2 linked regions of the Homo sapiens genome follow. The protein of the gene in region 2 interacts with the protein of the main gene of each other region in a pairwise test. Each region holds a gene or a part of one and is shown on either strand. Other genes may lie near its edges.

Region 1 (3,653 bases), on a different chromosome or scaffold from region 2:
ACTTTAGTGGCCTCCCTTTCTGTTTTGCCATAATCTGCCTCCTCCCCCACTCCCATACCCATCTACAAAGCAGCCTTGAAAATAACCACCCCTGTGGTTCAGTGTGGGTCATGATCTGTCAATCCAGGCTTAGTACATTTCCAAATGGAATTACCAGAAGGATGGGCATCAAACTGGGAAAATGATTTGGTGGCTTGCTAGCCGTGTTCCTTTTTCTCCCAAGGCATTCGTTCAGATGTGCAGTGTTGGCAGACCCAGGGGATGCCATTTACCTGGCCCACTGGTCGAGATTTGGTCATCCCAGGAACTTGGGCTTCAGAAAAGATGTTTCTGGGCTTTGGACCAGATTCTGGCTGGTCTGTGGTTTGCCCCTCCTGCCACACCCAGTGGCTTTCATTGGGCTTTTTTCCTCTAGTTATTGTCAGGAACAGTGGGGAATGGCAGGTATTGCATTTGGTGAACACACTGGATAACTGGAATCAGAGCCGTGTGACTGAGGGAAGAGGCCTTCACAGCTTCAATGCAGAATGGGATGATTATCTGCCCTGAAACGAAGGATGCTTCTTTGAGGGGAGTTGGGACCAATACTGGGAACAGCACCGCTCCTGGCTTCTCTGGCTTTGCTTCTCTCTGAAGTAATTTAGACTTCGTGAACCTTACATACTGGCTCCATCTGTATATTGGGAGAGCCTGTCCCTCTCAGCCTCACAGTAGTGAAGTTAGGAAGCATGGAGTCCACAGTGTTCTTTGAAAGAATCAAGGCACCAAGTCCATGCATTTACATTTCTCTCTTGAGATCAGTCCTTTTGTTAGCAGCCTGCAATTCTGACCACGGCAACCAAAAATTTCTGACCGTGGCAACCAAAAATCAAGCGCGAGGAAACCTGGGGGTTTATTTGGAGGTGGGAGAGGATGTCCCTTCTTCTGGTAGGACTATGTCTGGCTACATTGTCTTTCCATTTTTTTCTGATTGTCCCCTTGCCCCCCTCCCTTTTCTGGGGGCACAGAGGGCATGGCAATTTTGTTTCCTAGCTTTCCATATTCCTACTGCAGTGCTTTCTTCAGAATACTTGTTCAGATCGGATTCTTGGCTGTGAGGGCAACCAGCTGCTTTCCTGTTTCTTTAAAAGTGGATCCCACACTGCCGTGTCCTGCACAGTGAGTTCTGCATTGTAGAAACCATCTAGCAGTGGTGACTCAGGGAGTGGCCTCTGCTCGGTATGGGGCCTCTGCAACATGAGGTTATGGGGCTTCTACGCTGTGGGGTCAAAGGAGACATCATGATCCCTACTGGCAGAAAGAGCAGAGCCCCAGAGTGGGTTCCACTTACGGGGTCAGTGTCTTTTCTGAGATATTCCTCAGAACCACATTTAAATTCTTTTTCATATTGTTTGCATAATAATTGCCTTCTAGTGCCTACTTTATAGGACTGAGAGGATTTAAATGAGATAATCCATGTTATGGATTTAACACAGCCTCTGGCACAAGTCTAAATGTTGCATGTAAGTGTTAACTATTATACTGGAAAGAAGGCTCAGTTCCTTGATTTAGGTGTGGGAGAAAAATATATATATATTTTGAGATAGGGTCACACTCTGTCACCCAGGCTGGAGTGCAGTGGTGCAGTCACAGCTTGTATTAGCCTCCACCTCCTGGGATCAAGCGATCCTCCCACCTCAGCCTCTGAGGTACCTGGAACCATAGGTGTGTACCACCACACCCGGCTAATTTTTATTTTTTATTTTTTGGTAGAGAAGGGATCTCATTATGTTGCCCAGGCTGGTCTCAAACTCCTGGCCTCAAGTGATCCACCTGCCTCGCCTCCCTAAAGTGCTAGGTTTATGGTCGTGAGCCACTTAGCCTAGCCCTGAGAAAAATAATTTTTACAACAACTTAATTTCGCTCTCTCATTTTACCAAGGCATTAAAATGTTGTGCTCTTTCCTTGGGTGGGTTTCTAAATTAGAAGGGGCAGACATAGTCCCAGGGTGCTGGAGGAGGGATGCGGGCCTCTGAGGCATCTGCTGACAGGTTCACCATCCCATCTGGTCCCAGGTCTGAGGGAAGGAACAATAGTCTCTGGGCTGTTTTGGCTCTGACTGCCTGGATGGACTTGAAGCCATCTCTCTTTGGAATCCTGATGTCTCCCTGAGCATGGGGTGCAGGTTTGCTTAGGACTCAGACCCATGCACCTTGCGCTCAGTGACTTCTAGGACTCCTGGGAAACAGAGCTCTCAGCCCCTTTCTTAGTGTTTGCTGTGTGTGGGTATGTGTATGTTTATGTGTATGTGTATGTGTATGTGTATATGTATGTGTGTGTGTTTGGTGGGGGGCAGGACGGGAGTGACTGCCCTGGCTACAGTCATCCCAAACATGTTGTTCAAATTACTCCGAAGCCCTTGGGTTTTAGAAAAAGCAAAGCTGAAAAGCTGAAACTCTGGGCCGTGTTTCCCACCTCACTCATCCCGTGCTTGGGTCTGTAGGATAGGATGTCTCCATACAGCACAGGGGTGGTGGGCGACACCCACCTGGGGGCAGCAGTGAGAAGGCAGGGGCTCATCCTCCCCACAAAGTGGCTGGAGTTGATCTGTTATGGACGTGTTCGAAGTGTCCTTCTCTGCATCTTGTCTGCTTACTGAGTGCCATTAGCCAAAGTCTGTTAGGCCAAGTAGGAAGGAAGGGAGGGGCCCTGGGGCTAGGTAAGATCAATCATTGCAAGCACTTATTTAGTGCTCACCATGTACTCTGCGCTTTATCTATGTTTCATTTGAATCTTCCTAACCACCCAGTGGGATCGGCCCTTCTGGTGTGACTGATGGGGAGAGGGGAAGGCAGGTGGCCCACGGGCACACAGGTAGGCAGTCAGTGGCAGAGTGAAGATTGGAACCCAGATGTCTGCCTGTACCTGGACTCCAGCCTGTCTCGGGATAGGCCTGGCCTGGCCTGCCCTGTGTACACTGAGTGGGAGGCAGACAGATCTGAAGCCCATCTGCCTGCGTCCCTCTGTTTCTGGCTGAGTCCAGGTGGTGCTGGCACCGGTCACCCGCCCCAACGCTGGAGGGCACCCTGCCTCCCCTCTCTTTGCCCTGATTTCCCTCTGCTGTCTCTGAAAGTGGGTCTTCCCCCTCCCAAGTCCAGGCACCTGGCACAGCTGGAGCCCTGGGGTCCTTGGGGCAGCTGCGCTGGGACGTGGCCAGTGTCAGGAGCCGGTGTGTGTGACGGAGGCTGGGCTGCATTCTTTCTGGGTCAGTAGTTTGGCATTTACATCACCAGCCTTTGGCTGGATGCAATGCCTCCTGCCCAGACCACAATGGAGCCTTGTTTGATTTATCACCATCCAGCCACGCCCACACTCCACCTCCATCTCCACCTGGGGAGACCCCTTTGCAGGGGGTCTTGTGGAAATCAGAGACTGTTCGTAGGGGAAAGTCAGCTTCCTTTTCTGTGTTCCATCCTTCTTAAGGCCAGTGGCCGCTGTCATCCTGCCCTTGGCTTGGCTTTGCTGATTTCTACAATATCTTGCGGAGGTGCCCCCTTTCCTTAGAGGATGCATCTTTAACACTCTCAGAGAGGCTGGGGCAGGAGCTGTCCACACCAGGGCCTGCAGCAAGGGCCCGTCTTCCCCAAAGTGACTTGGGAGAGTCTTCCTGGCCC
Region 2 (3,653 bases):
CTAATTGTGCTGTAGTGCACTAGTCTACCCTCTTAACAATATCATGAGCCTCTTTAAGGAAGGGCCTGTTGTACCCTTTCTTGGATTTGTCTCCAAATTAAGCACAATTATAGGTTCATGGTAGGCAAGTGATACATTCATAGTTTCTAGTAGCTTTGTTTCCCTTTCTCCCCATTTGGTTATCTTTCTTTCTGCTCCTTTTTCTTTGTCATTCTGTTCTTTTCTTTTTAAAAAACTAGCTGACTCATCCTTCATTGTTCTCTGTCCTCCTTTATTCCTTCTTTCCTTTCCCCATCTTATTTGCTGGCTTTATGTCTAAGTATAAATAAATATGCTTATGATCTCACTAAGCTAAAATGCCAACCCTAATCGTTATTTGGAATATTTTTCTTCAGTCATATTTCTAGGTTTATGGAAAAACATGGGATATTTACAGAATATAGTTTAAATGTATGCTTTATATCTGCGTATAGGTGTTATAGATAAAAATAGTTTTTGACTGAAAAAAAGAGTAAAAAAAATCACCTTGCTAAAATTAAGGCAAATGTGATTATGATGAAGTTATTTGAGTTTATTTTATAGTTGCTAAGCCTCAAGTGATGGAAATATGTAAACTGTAAAAAGTTTAAGGTGCTAGATGTTTTCATGCTGAAATTATAGATTGTGCTGTTACAACTTTCACAACATTGTTTGCTTTAAGACTGCTTCGTATGCAAAATAATTTTTTAACCCAGCAATTGCAGAGTATTTAGATCATTTTCCAAGTATGGAGAAAATATTGAATTCAAAAGGATCACAAATAAAATGACAAATTTACCTTCAAATGATAACAATTTATCAGTAATTAAATGGCTAGGCTCGAAAGGGACCTAAGTTTTAGGTATTTCAGTTTAGCTACTGACTTTTTGAACTGTACATTTTGTAGTACTACCCTTTAAATGTAATCTTCTTTAATTTTAGCAAGATGAGTATCATATGGTTCATCTAGTATGTACTTCTCGGACTCCTCCCAGTTCTCCAAAATCCAGCACCAATAGAGAAAGTCATGAAGCATTGGCATCCAGCAGCAATTCTGTGAGTTGTTTTGGGAGGAGTAAACATTGAACTTTTCTTTTTTTTTCGTCGTCGTCTTATTTTTTGCCTCTAAAAACTAAATGAAAAACAGAACAATTGGAGCTTGTGAATTTTGAGATTGTGTTTTGAACTAAAGTTAGGCATTTTGTAAAGTTTACCATTTTGAAAGATCTAATACGCAGTGTTATCCCTTGAAGTCTATTCACCTTGAGTTATAATTTGCTGTATGGCAGGTCAGTAATAGATTTAATCTTCAAAGGTTTAATTACTGGAATACTCAGAAAACGGAATTATGTTACGGTTATATAATATAAACTCTTAGGCCAATGACGTTTCAGAAATATGCCAGGTATTTAAAATAGTATATTTTATTCAAGGTGGATTAAATTGTTTAAAATTTAAGTACCCTAAATCTTCTTGAAGTAGATGACTTGGTCAAGGATTTTGTTTTTTAAAAATGACTGGATTTGGGTGTACATTCCACCTGCTTGGGGAGGAAATACTTAATGTATTAATCTCTTTCAGACTTGGGTATTCATTCCTCCATCCTTATTTTTCCATCTGCCTAAAATTGTTTTGGAAATGTTTTGTAATAGTTGACCTTCTCAATTTAGACATTTTCTACAAATTTCAAAAACATTGTCCCCAATCCTTTTATGTTATTTTTGATTTCCCATAAAAGCTTTCTATGACACCTTTGCAGGTGAGAGGATTGGATGAGTGGAAGCTTGCTTTCAACTTCTTGAGCAGTCAGGGAACTTTTCTACTGCTAAGTATGCTTTCCTTGTCAAGACTCCAGCCAAAGCTTGAAAGAGAGCACAAGTGACAGGGGTGGGAGCTAGTTGAAAACTCTCTCAATAGATACTAGTTAACTGCTTCTTTAAGAAACTAGCTTCTCCAGTTGCTGTATTTAATTTGTATTCTCTTAATGGTAACTATTTCCTAGTACCAGCCATGGGAATTTAGCTTACATTAAACTAAATAAAATATGCCTTGTCAAAACACCCAAGGGTCTTTGTATGTTTCCTGCCTTGGCATGGAAAGGCACAGACATTGGCATTGGCACAGAGTTTTTTTTTGTAGTCGTCGGACACAGTTGCATTGCTTCAATTTTTGTTGGGAAAGAACCCTCTGACTTTGACTTGTCCAGTGGGTTGCTCAGCCATGATTTTGTGTCATTAGTGTGTATATTTGTTTTTTTCAGTGTTATGAAAGCCTGAAAAGTATCAAAGGAATGTTAAGTTGAATTCACCTTAATTTTTCATGGTTCAGAAATTTCAAGGGACTTGAAAATATTTTAAAGATCTAATCATAAAATAATTACCTAATAAGGTCAGAAATCATTAGTTCTAGAGAAATTAGGTTGTGCTGCCAAATGACTAGGCTTTTCTTCTAATAATTGTATTAATGAACACCGTATTATGATGGCCCATTTAATGAGAAATCTTGCTGAAAAAGAAACCTTTCCCAGTTTATGTTCCTAAGAATCCGGACTCCTTAGTAAGATATTTGATATCTATTGTGTGTGAAGTAACATTTTAAAAGTTTTTGTTAGTCTTGCAAAAGACTGGTGTGGACTGTTTTGCAAAAGACAGTTTTGGACCTTTCACATTGCAGGACTTAGCATGGGAGTCATGCAAAAAGACATCCTGTCAATAGGAAGGCAGTACGGGTAAAATACAATTTAACAAAATTGTTAAAGGAAGGATGTTAAAATAATACTGTACCTAGCTTTTTAAAGTGGAAGAACTATAATTTATGTAAAATGTAATTGTGTTTTAAATGTACATGAAACACTTGACAAACTATTTTCAAACAAATTGGGATGGTCTTCAGGGAGTTATATTGTTTATGGTTACTGAATCCATGAGCACGAGAATAAAAAGATTTGAGCATGAGAATAAAAAAATACTGATTAACATCTTGATTCTCGTAGTTCATTTTGTAAAAAAGCAATATTTGTTGGTGATTTCTATAAACTAATAGAATTCTAGAACTGAAAGGAATCTTGAAAATTTAGTCCAATCTCATTTTCTGTAGGAAAGTGGAAACTCTGAGAGGTTAAGTGAACCTTTAAGGTTATAACTCTTGTTAATGTCAGAGATAACACTAGATTTTAGATCTTTTGATTTCTAGGATTTCTAGCCTGTTTCTCATTACTTTAAATCAATATGTTAACAATAGCATGTTGTACAGTACTTGGCACATAGTAACTGTTTAAATGACTCAGTAATTAGTACCATTTATTGAACACTTTCAATAAATGTATGTGTTAGGCATCATGAAAGGAGCTTTGCATGCATTAATTTAATCATGTGAAAAGAGCTTTTTATGCATTAACTTAATCCTCAGAATTTAATATGCTGTTTTTGTATATTATTATTCTGCTCCTCGGCCATTTCTAGTTGAAAAAATGGAATATTTTAGTTTAATTAAGCAGTTTTGATAAGTTTTGACGTACTAAAATTAAAATATCTACTTATACTGGACACACGATGTAAAACAGTAAATTTCTGAAATGTTATTTTGCAGAGGGATTTCATGAATACGTTTTTAGTAATGTGCCTGTAATTTTATGA

What was found.
Region 1: the proteins of HERPUD2 (region 2) and SLC7A1 interact in binary tests that used the Homo sapiens proteins (3 or more experiments, as listed by UniProt).

The regions. Positions count from the first base shown.
Region 1 is NC_000013.11:29,589,036-29,592,688, reverse strand, and holds part of SLC7A1 (high affinity cationic amino acid transporter 1), read left to right. Parts: intron 1-3,653. UniProt on the Homo sapiens protein: High-affinity, low capacity permease involved in the transport of the cationic amino acids (arginine, lysine and ornithine) in non-hepatic tissues.
Region 2 is NC_000007.14:35,667,636-35,671,288, reverse strand, and holds part of HERPUD2 (homocysteine-responsive endoplasmic reticulum-resident ubiquitin-like domain member 2 protein), read left to right. Parts: intron 1-960; coding exon 961-1,074; intron 1,075-3,653. UniProt on the Homo sapiens protein: Could be involved in the unfolded protein response (UPR) pathway.